Linked DNA regions of Homo sapiens. The protein of the gene in region 3 purifies or fractionates together with the protein of the main gene of each other region. This does not show direct contact. Each region holds a gene or a part of one and is shown on either strand. Other genes may lie near its edges. The genes, in order: PRMT2, SNX25 and GJA3.

What was found.
Region 1: the proteins of GJA3 (region 3) and PRMT2 purify together in Homo sapiens (affinity purification with mass spectrometry; one large-scale study listed by BioGRID and IntAct). This does not show direct contact.
Region 2: the proteins of GJA3 (region 3) and SNX25 purify together in Homo sapiens (affinity purification with mass spectrometry; one large-scale study listed by BioGRID and IntAct). This does not show direct contact.

Annotation. Positions count from the first base shown.
Region 1 is NC_000021.9:46,652,518-46,656,173, reverse strand, and holds part of PRMT2 (protein arginine N-methyltransferase 2), read right to left. Parts: exon of another isoform or gene 3,330-3,656; coding exon of another isoform or gene 3,120-3,329; exon of another isoform or gene 1,077-3,119; intron 1-1,076. UniProt on the Homo sapiens protein: Arginine methyltransferase that methylates the guanidino nitrogens of arginyl residues in proteins such as STAT3, FBL, histone H4. Acts as a coactivator (with NCOA2) of the androgen receptor (AR)-mediated transactivation.
Region 2 is NC_000004.12:185,264,973-185,268,628, reverse strand, and holds part of SNX25 (sorting nexin-25), read right to left. Parts: intron 1,661-3,656; coding exon 1,474-1,660; intron 1-1,473. UniProt on the Homo sapiens protein: May be involved in several stages of intracellular trafficking.
Region 3 is NC_000013.11:20,140,748-20,144,052, forward strand, and holds part of GJA3 (gap junction alpha-3 protein), read right to left. Parts: intron 2,559-3,305; 5' UTR 2,542-2,558; coding exon 1,234-2,541; 3' UTR 1-1,233. UniProt on the Homo sapiens protein: Structural component of lens fiber gap junctions. Gap junctions are dodecameric channels that connect the cytoplasm of adjoining cells. They are formed by the docking of two hexameric hemichannels, one from each cell membrane.

The DNA.
Region 1 (3,656 bases), on a different chromosome or scaffold from region 3:
TGCCAGGCTCTTTTTCACAACCAGCTCTTGTTGGGACCTGAAAGAGCTAGAACTCACTTATCTACCCACGAGGAAGGGCATTCATCTATTCATGAGGGATCCACACCCATGACCCAAACACCTCCCACTAGGCCCCACCTCCCAACACCACCACACTGAGGATCAAATTTCAACATGAGATTTGGTGGGGACAAACCATAGCACTAGTTCCTTTACATTCCATATACATTTCATAATGAGCTTATCTATAAGAACAAATCCTGCTTGGATTCTAATTGGAATTTTATTAAGTCTACAGATCAATTTAAAAAGAACATACGTCTTTACTAGGTTGAGCCTTCTTATCTCTCCATTTATTTAGGTTTTCTGGGGTTTCTTTCATTATCATCTCATCATTTTCAGCATCCAGATCACATTTTGTTAGATTTCTAAGCCTTTCATATTTTTGAAGCTACTGTGATATTCTTTAATTTCTAATTGTACATTGCTAAGATATAAAAATGACTTCTGTATGATGACCTTGCACTCTGTGATCTTGTTAAACTCACTTACTAGTTTTAGGAAATTTTCTCATAGACTCCTTAGGATTTTCTGTAGGTTTTTTTGTAGATGTCCTATGTCATGTTAAATTTCCTTCCCTTTCTAGTTTGCTGAGAATTTTATCATGAACTGATGTTGAATTTTGTCAATTTTTTTCTGTATTGATATAATCATGATTTTTCTTCTTCAGACTGTTAATATGGTAGATTACACTGATTGATTTTCAAATATTGAACCAGCCTTGCATTCCAAGGATAGTTTCTTTTTTTGTTATGGTGTATTATTATTCCTTTTATATCCTGCTGGTTTAAATTTGCTAATGTTTTCTTGAGGATTTTTACATTTATGTTCATGAGGGTTATTGGTCTGTAGGTTTCATATTTTGTGTTAACATTGGTTTTGGTATTAGGGCAATGCTTACCTCATATAATGAGTGAGGAAGTGTTCCCTCTTCTTTTCTGAAAGTTGTTTAGAACTGGAGTTTTTTCTTCATTAAATGTGTTGATAGAATTCACCAGTGAAATCATTTAGGGTAGAGATTTACCTTTCAGAAGGTTTTTAAACTATTAATTCAATATCTTTACTAGTTATTGGACCATTCAGGTTATCTATTTCATGTTAGATGAACTGTGGTAATTTGCAGTTTTCAAAAGAATTGGTCCATTTCATGGACCTTCTTTGCTTCTCACTCTATGTATGTACACTCTATGTACATACATAGAGGGAGAAGAAAGAAAATGATAACTCAAGACTGTTTCAGGAATACAGTTGTTTCTTGGTGTCTATGGGGAACTTGTTCCAGGACCCCCGTGGATATTCAAATCCTTGGATGCTAAAGTCCCCCATATAAAATAACGTGGTTTTTACATACAGGCTACACACATCCTCCGACAGACTTTAAATCATCTCTAGATTACTTCTACCTAATACAATGTCAGTGTTATGTAAGTAGCTGCTATACTGTATTGGTGTGTTATTTGTATTGATGTTTATTGTTGTATTGTTATTTTTATTTTCTGATATTTTCAATACATGTAGGTTGTATCTACAGATGTGGAGCCCACAGATACTTGACCGTACTTCAAATTCTTGTCTTCTTCACCAGTCGATTGCTACTATGTCTTTGTTCCAGAGTCCTCAAATAGTTTCTCCCTGTCTACTCTCCAGGATTTATAGCTGCATTCAGTGGGAGACATGAAAGGAGTATGCCTTCTCCATCTTATCTGGAACTGAAGCTAGGTTACCACTATGTCTAATTTTTAAACACAAAATTGGAATCATACTGTACATACTCTGTACTTTTTTTAAAAACTAGCAACATGTCACCAACTTTTTCCAAAGACTGTTAAAAATCTTTCTAAAACATAATTTTTAATGATCATATGTATTGCTACAATTCTGTTGTTTCCAATTTTCTCCCCATTTTAAACGGTGCTGCCATGAACATTTTTTAACATAAATTTCTGTACAAATTTGATTATTTCCTTAGGATAATTTCATCAAAAAAATTTGGTGCCTGGTCTCTGGGTCCAGCTGCTGGGAAGGAGGACACTGCAGTCTCAGCACCCACCAGCTCCTCCTCCTTCCTCCTCCCCCGAGGTGAATGTGCCCTCAGAAGTGCAAGCTGCTGATTAACTATGCTGCATTTTTTATGACGTGAAAGTTCGGAAATGCTCCACGCCAAAAAAAAAAAAAAACAAGAAAAGAAAAAAGGCTGTCATTTTTTGTCCCAGTGCAGACAAAGTGCATTGTTGTAGAAGGAGGTGAAGAGACCTTGGTTGGAGATGTCTAAGTGTAGCCATAAGCGGTCCTTCAAGCATGTGGTGGCAATGTTTCCTGAAAAAGATGTCTCTGTACTTTGTATGAGGCAAGCTTTAAAACCAAGGAATCCAGAAGAGTTGATGGTTTTGTGTGTGTGCGTGTGGGCACCAGAACTAGCACCTCTGAAAAGTAAAATGATCTACATGAGCTCCAGGGAATGCAACCAAAAAGAAATATCAAGGCATAAAACATGAACATCAAGCAAAGGGGCCAGAAGTCCTCCCTTAGGCCTGTCCCACTGGGAAGCCAGGCGGCCTTGGTTGTGGCCTCTGCAGGGTGCCCTGTGTAGATCGTCCTTCAGTGCCACAAACTGAAAGTGCCCGTGTTTACGCTTATCCTCTTGTTGTGTAAATAAAGCAAATACATTTAGGCCAGAGTCTTGCTGAGGGGGAGCTGTCCCATCATCTACACCACACATTCTATAAATATGTGCAAACAGCCTTAAATACATCCGAAGTCTGAAGTGTTATTGGTATGAAATTAAATTCTTACTGGCCACGTGCCTGTTTTCATGAGCTGACTTATAAAGACTTTCGTTAAGCTCAGGATTTGTGATAATACAGTCAATAAAACAGTACAAGGCTGTGTGAAGAGAATTATTACATCTTTGTTAACCTCAGCAGTTACTTTGTTTCTTTTGCTTAGAAAATTCGTCATAATGTGGTTGTAATTTTGGTCCAAATTCTTTATTCTTCCTTGAGCTAAAGAGAATAACGGAATATAATATGTCCTCATCACATATTGACAGCACGAATACACTAACAACAGTAAGACTGAGTCTGGCAGTCTTTTAATTCTACCAAATGTGCAATGGAGATCCTCAGTGACCTTGCAAAGCGTCCTGAAAGGTCCAGGAGGCAGCCCCTGCACCTGCAGTGCCACTGGCTAGTGGGAGACTGCTGAGTGTGCAACCTGCTTCTCGGAAATCGTGGCGTGGCCTCAGGAGAACAAGCAAGATCCTGTAACAACTAATGATAACGCAAATTAGGGCTCAATTGTCACCTGCTTTGTTAACAAAAATGATTAAATGGTCTGTTGACAATCTAGGACACCTGTGGTATCTTTACTTGCGTCTCCTTCAGAACTTTGCTGCTTCTGGAAAAACAAAAAAATTTTAATGCTCTTTGACTTATTCTGCCCTATTTTCCTTCAAAAGGCTTTACCAATTTACACTGCCAAAAAAAGGGCATGGCGGTGCACACTTCCCCACAACCTCAGCATCGGGAGCATCAGATATTAGAGGATTGCTCAGCCAACTTCCCAGGTCAAAACTATTACAGTTACTTTCAAATTGT
Region 2 (3,656 bases), on a different chromosome or scaffold from region 3:
CACCCAATTTCAACCAATATTTTACTTTTCCATCAGGGTTTTACCAAAATTATTAATGAAAAGCAAAATGAACATATAAGAGTTTTCTTTCTTTCCCCTATATTATCATTTGGGAACATTAAAAAGAAGGGTAGAGAAACAGAAGCCTAGAAAATTTACAAACTAGATAATACTATATAATCATACTAAATGTGTATATACTATTAAAAATACACAAAAATACACACCCCCTAAAATATCTCAGGTATAACAAGGGACACTGTGCTCCCCTATAAAAGATACTCCTATGGTATTTTCAAATGTGTTTTCTCAAAATAATTAATCTAGAACCTCTTATTCCCAAACCCAAGCCTCTGTACTGTCCAAGACAAACAAAAACCAACACAATGTTCTACTCTGTAATTTGAAACACATCTTCTCCTTCTGATGTCCTTCCAGTGCTTTTCTAAGGTAGTCATCTGAGCAGCTAAGCAGGTACTCCCGACATCTGAAGAGCTTTCAGTCTATTATAGCCTCATTACAGCTGACTCTTGAAAAACATAGGTTTGAACTGCATGAGTCCACTTACACAGGATTTTGTTCTGCCTCTGCCACCTGAGACAGTAAGACAAACCCCTCCTCATTCTCTTCCTCCTCAGCATACTTCCATGTGAAGAGATGAGGATGAAGACCTTTATGATGATCTACTTCCACTTACTGCATAGTAAATATATTTTCTCTTTCTGGTTTTCATAATATTTTCTTTTCTCCAGCTTACTTTATTGTAAGAATACAGTATATAACACATATAACACACAAGATACGTGCTAATCAACTGTTTATGTTATTAGTAAGGCTTTGGTCAACAGTAAGGTATTTAGTAGTTAAGTATTTGGAGAGTCAATTTTTTTTTTTTTTTTAGAAGGAGTCTCACTCTGTCACCCAGGCTGGAGTGCAGTGGTGTGATCTCAGCTCACTGCAACCTCCACCTCCCAGGTTCAAGTGATTCTCATACCTCAGCCTCCTGAGTAGCTGGGACTACAGGCATGTGCCACCACACCCAGCTGATTTTTGTATTTTTAGTAGAGATGCGGTTTCACCATGTTGGCCGCGCTGGTCTTGAACTCCTGACCTCAAGTGATCCGCCCACCTCAGCCTCCCAAAGTGCTGGGATTACAGCACTTTTGAGCCACTGTGCTTGGCCCAAGTCAAATGTTATATGTGATTTTTGACTGGGGGTGGGGGCGGTGGGGAGCGTGGGTGCCCCAAATTGTTCGAGTCAACTGTATTTGAAAAACCTAATACTTTAAAAAAATTCATTCTAATTACACTGCTAAGGAGACGCTGGATAAATTTAGCTGTCACTAAATAGTAAGATTTATAGACTTGTTTTATTTCTGCTTCCCTGACAACTACTTTTTTTTTTTTTTAACCTAACTAGGCAGGGGATGATAATCAGTAGCTGTTGCTGTGCTATAATTGAAGACCAAATACCTTAGTTGCTTCAAGAACTCCACATCAGAGTTGCTGTTAATGAGCTTGATGAAGTCCTCGTAAGAGGGGGCATAGGTGTAGGCTCTCTTGTGATGCTCATTCATTTGCTCTCTGTACGCCAGCTGGGCAAGCAGCATTTGGTTAATGTAATCTGGATTACTCAGTAACTCCACTACCGGCTTCAAGACTACAGGAAGAAGAAGAAATAGCCACTGAGAAAGGTATTCTTCTTTAAGGGAACTGTTTATGTATCACATAACTGAGACTACATTTGGGAAACATTTTTCAAGTAGTCAAACAGGGGAATATCTATATAATACAATAAACAATTCAAAAATGTACACACATGCACACATACAGCTGCCTATCCCTCCAAATATGTTATCATCCATGGCTATAATCAAGTTGTCATTTTAATAAATAAGTGAAATGTAAAAGAATCATGAAGGGAAGTCATTTGGAACTCAAGTTGCTAACAAATCTATCAAAATTAAGGCCGGGCGTGGTGGCTCACACCTGTAATCCCAGCACTTTGGGAGGCTGAGACAGGTGGATCACTTGAGGTCAGGAGTTTGAGACCAGCCTGGCTAACATGGTGAAACCCCAATCTCTACCAAAAACACAAAAATTAGCCATGCATGGTGGCACATGTCTGTAATCCTAGCTACTCGGGAGACTGAGGCAGGAGAATTGCTTGAACCCGGGAGGCAGAGGTTGCAGTGAGCCGAGATCTCGCCACTGCACTCCAGCCTTGGCGACAGAGTGAGACTCCATCTCAAAAAACAAAAAACCACAAAATTACAACAACCAAAAAAACACTGATTTTTTTCTTTTACTTATTTTATAAGGCTCAATACGTTTTGACAAGCTTAGTCTGCCAAAGGATGAAAGTCAACATTCTCCCCAACTGGTTAAAACAGACCTCAGAGAGGAAGTTAAAAAGTCAATGACACTATTACAAAGCCATCCTTGTAACTTGAGATTAGAAACTTCCTCTCTTCTCTGTGGTTGGTTATAATAGCTGATGGGCACAGCTGGCTTATCCTGAGATAGTAAATGAGATAATCACTGCATCTCAAATGCAATGCTATTTGTCTGAGACTGAGATAGGGAAAGTTTCTCTTATCCTGACTAAGCATTTCCCTGGATATAGTTAACTTTTTTCTAGTAATCACATTATATTGTGGTACAGTTCCTTTTTACATATTCCAAGTTCACAAAATTATGTACAGTCATGCGCCACATAATGACATTTTGGTCAACAACAGACTGACTATATGACAGTGGCCCCCATAAGATTATAATGAAGCTGAAAATTTTCTACCATTTAATGAGGTCAAGCTAGTGTAAAGAAACCTATTGCACTGTCAATAGTATAAAAATACAGCACATACAATTATGTACAGTGCATACTTGATAATGATGATAAATGTTATTACAAAAGAGTCAAAAAGTTTAAAAAAATTAAAAGTTCATAAAGTAAAAAAAGTTATAGTAAGCTAAGGTTAATTTATTGAAGAAAATAAAATTTTAAATAAATGTAGTGTAGCCTAAGCGTACACTGTTTATGAAGTCTGCAGTGGTGCACAGTCATGTCCTAGGCCTTCACAGTCACTCCCCACTCACTCAGAGCAACATCCAGTCCTGCAAGCTCCATTCATGGTAAGTGTCCTATATAGGTGTACTGTTGTTTATCTTTTATACCATATTTTTACTGTACCTTTTCTATACTTAGATACACAAATATCATTGTGTTACTATTGCCTACAGTATTCAGTACAGTAATATGGTATAAGGTTTATAGTCTAGGAGCAATAGGTTACACCATATTGCCCACATGTGTAGTGGGCTATCCCATGTAGGTGTGTAAGTACACTCTATGATATTTGCACAATGACATTGTCTAATGACACATTTCTTCGGACACATCCCTGTTGTTAAGCAATGCATTACTGTATACGCATTATCAACAAATCATATAGCAAAGATATTTTAAGTAAATATGCTAATCAGAATTTGACTGTGGTCAGGGATGGTTGCTCACACCTGTAATCTCAGCACTTTGGGAGGCCTAAGTGGGAGGATCACTTGAACCCAGGAGTTCAAGACTTGCCTGGGCAACATAGTAAGACCCCCATCTCTATTTAAAGAAAAAAAAAAGAATTTGAACACACACACACACG
Region 3 (3,305 bases):
CAGACACTTATATTATTTACACTGGAGAAAGCAAACAGGCTGCCCACAAAGAATGATTAGGAAGCTTGAAGTGTTTTATTCTGTACTTTTTAAAAGTGTAGATTGTCATAGATTCATCTGTATAAATAATTTTCCTGGCAACAGTAGTTCACTTTTCACTTCCCATTCAAAATCTTCAGAACTTCTATTTGAATGCACTTAAAACTTTCCCCTGCTTTTGTTTTATATAATACATTCTCATTATAATTAGGTGACTCATGAAATTAAAGAATTTCTTTTACAAGAAAGTTCAAAATCTTTAGTAAAGATGCTAGTAGCATGCATTAGGGCAAATTAGCACTGTCTTGGTCAGCAATCATTCTAACAGTATTTAAAGAAAGAAAAACACTATTTTTCTTTCATTTTTCCTGAAAGAAAGTGGGAGAAAATAGGCATAGCTGCACCATTCAAAGCACAAAATAATCATTTAGAAAATAAATACCTACGGCATACCCGACACACTTTTATGTCAATTTCCTCAACTGTTTAAAAATGGCCTCAGGCGTGGCTGCGTTTCCACCTGCCTTCTGCCAGCAACCTCTGGGGCCCTTGCCCACTGAGCCTGCCTCTGGAGGGCAACTGCTCTTTGTCACTTGTCATGAGGCCTGAAGCTTGATATCCTGGGCTTCACATGCAATTTCGGAAACTCAAATGACACTACATAGACTTGCTGTAAATCTTTTTTTAGTGCAGTTTGGCAAATATCCCAAATGAAATTCAACTCTAAGTTAAAAGTATCAAAGAGATAGAGCTAAGTGCTCTGGCCCAGAGCTAAGACCCTCTGGGCCGCCCAGAGGCTCTGGAGAGCTTAGGAATAGCAAACCCAATTGCCCAGGAGCTAAAGGGACTGCAGGATACCTGTTGCTTTACCACTACAGAACAGTTACCCCCAGAGACAGCCCTCAGCGACCAGATTTCTGGGCTGCTGTGAAGATCTTAAAGGCCCACAACCCTTGTCCCCGCCACCCCCAAACTCAGAAAGTGGGAGTTATCCCCACTGTAACTCACAGTGCTAAGAACAGCAAGCATTGAACACGGAAACCTGATCTCTCCTCCATCGTCCACCTCCTGGGACTCCAGTCGCTCCCACCTCCTGGGACTTTCAGGTTCTATCTGCTGGTGGGAAGTGCACTTTGGTTTTGGTTTCTAAGAAAAAGATCACTACACAGCTGTCTGGAGGCAGGCACCCGGGCACTAGATGGCCAAGTCCTCCGGTCTGGCCCGCCCGCTGCTGGCCCTGCTGGCCTTGCTGGCCCGACCTGGGTCTCCGAGGGGCAAGGGCGGCTGGTGCATCTGGGCCGCGGTGGTCACGGCCTGCTCCTCCTCCTCGGGGGTCCCTGCCAGGGCGCTCCCCTCCAGACTGCTGCCGCTCCCATCCAGCAGCAGGGGCGCCGCGCCCGCCTCAGCCTCGTGCGCGAGTGGCGGGGAGCTGCTGCCGACGGGGCTGGGGGCTGCAGGCGTGGACGCTGCCGGGTAAGCCTTGAGCGCCGGGGGCTGCCGCTCGGCCGCCTGGTTGGCCCAGTTCTGCTCAGTCATCAGCAGGTGGTGGTGGCCGTTGTAGAGCTTGGCGGACTGGCCCTTTCCGCGCGCCTCGGTCAGGGCTAGCAGTTTGAAGTCCGCGGCTGGTGGCGGGGCCCCGGGGTAGCCCACGGCGCGGGCCTGTCCCAGGGGCGCAGCGGTGTGCGCATAGTAGGGTGGGAACCCGATGGCAACGGCGGGCGGCCGGGAGCTGGGGGGCAGGGGCGGGGGATCGGCTGTCCCCAGCGGGGCCTCGGAGGCGTCCGGGCCGAGGCGGCTGGTCACGCCCTGCTTGAGCTTCTTCCAGCCCAGGTGGTAGATCTCCAGCATGTTGAGCAGCAGGGACGCGCAGGCCACCGCCAGCATGAAGATGATGAAGATGGTCTTCTCCGTGGGCCTGGAGATGAAGCAGTCCACCGTGTTGGGGCAGGGCCAGCGGTCGCAGCGGTAGAGCGGCTTCAGCTCGAAGCCGTACAGAAAGTACTGGCCGGCGATGAAGCCCACCTCGAACAGCGTCTTGAAGATGATGTTGAAGACGTAGGTCCGCAGCAGCGCCCCGGCCATGCGCACCCTGCCGCGGTCGTCCCGCGACGAGGGATTGTCCTGCGGTGGCTCCTTGGGGCTGGGGCTCTCTCTCTTCAGCTGCTCCTCCTCCTCCCTCTCTTTCTTCTTCTCTTCCATGCGCACGATGTGCAGCACGTGGCCCAGGTAGATGAGGGTGGGCGTGGACACGAAGATGATCTGCAGCGCCCAGAAGCGGATGTGGGAGATGGGGAAGGCCCTGTCGTAGCAGACGTTCTCGCAGCCCGGCTGCTGGGTGTTGCAGGTGAAGTCTGACTGCTCATCGCCCCACACGTCCTCCGCCGCGGCCCCCAGCACCAAGATGCGGAAGATGAACAGCACGGTCAGCCAAACCTTGCCGATGACCGTGGAGTGCTCCTGTGCATTTTCTAAGAGTCTTCCCAGAAAGCTCCAGTCGCCCATTGCTTCAGATTCCTAACCTGTAAGAGGAAAATGCTCATGAACACCGGGCTGCAACGGCTGAGTGCCGGGTCCGCACCCATGGGCGGCGGCAGCGGCCTGGATGGTACTGGGATGGGGCTGATGGGCAGCTTCTCCACAGGACAGGCATCGCAGCTCCCCAGGACCTGGACGAGCAGGCACTACACAAGTGCAAGCGTCCATGAGGAACCACAGGTTAAACTCTTCATTTCAGAGAGGAGGAAGCCAGAGCCAGAAGAGAAAATGCCCTCCTCTGGCCTCCAGACTGCTCAAGCCCTCTCCCTGAGGCTGACCCTACAGGAGCTCTGGGGCTCTGCGGCCCCTTAGGCCACTTCTGAATCATGACCTTTCTGTTCAGGTGGGATTAGAGCAACCTCTTCCCAAATTGCTGCCATCCCCATGCCCATGCCACCTTCAGAACTTCTGCCATGTTAATCTGATACCTCTTCTACTATTTGCTTTTTCTGTCTTCACATCAACTCTTTATGCTTAAATTTATCTCAACTAGGAAAGTTTACATTACTACTGTCAATGGAAAATCGGCACTAATACCTTCAATGGATGGTAGCTTTAAGAGTAAATATATTCCAACTCAGCCAGCTTTATTTTGGAAGTAAGGAAATAAAGACTTACTCCCCTTTTTTAAAAAAGAATAAATTCCTTGATGACAATGAAGTTGATACAGTCTATGGGATATTGCTTGCCAAAAGCTCTGGATGTAAGCTCTCTTGTTACAAAGAGGAAGA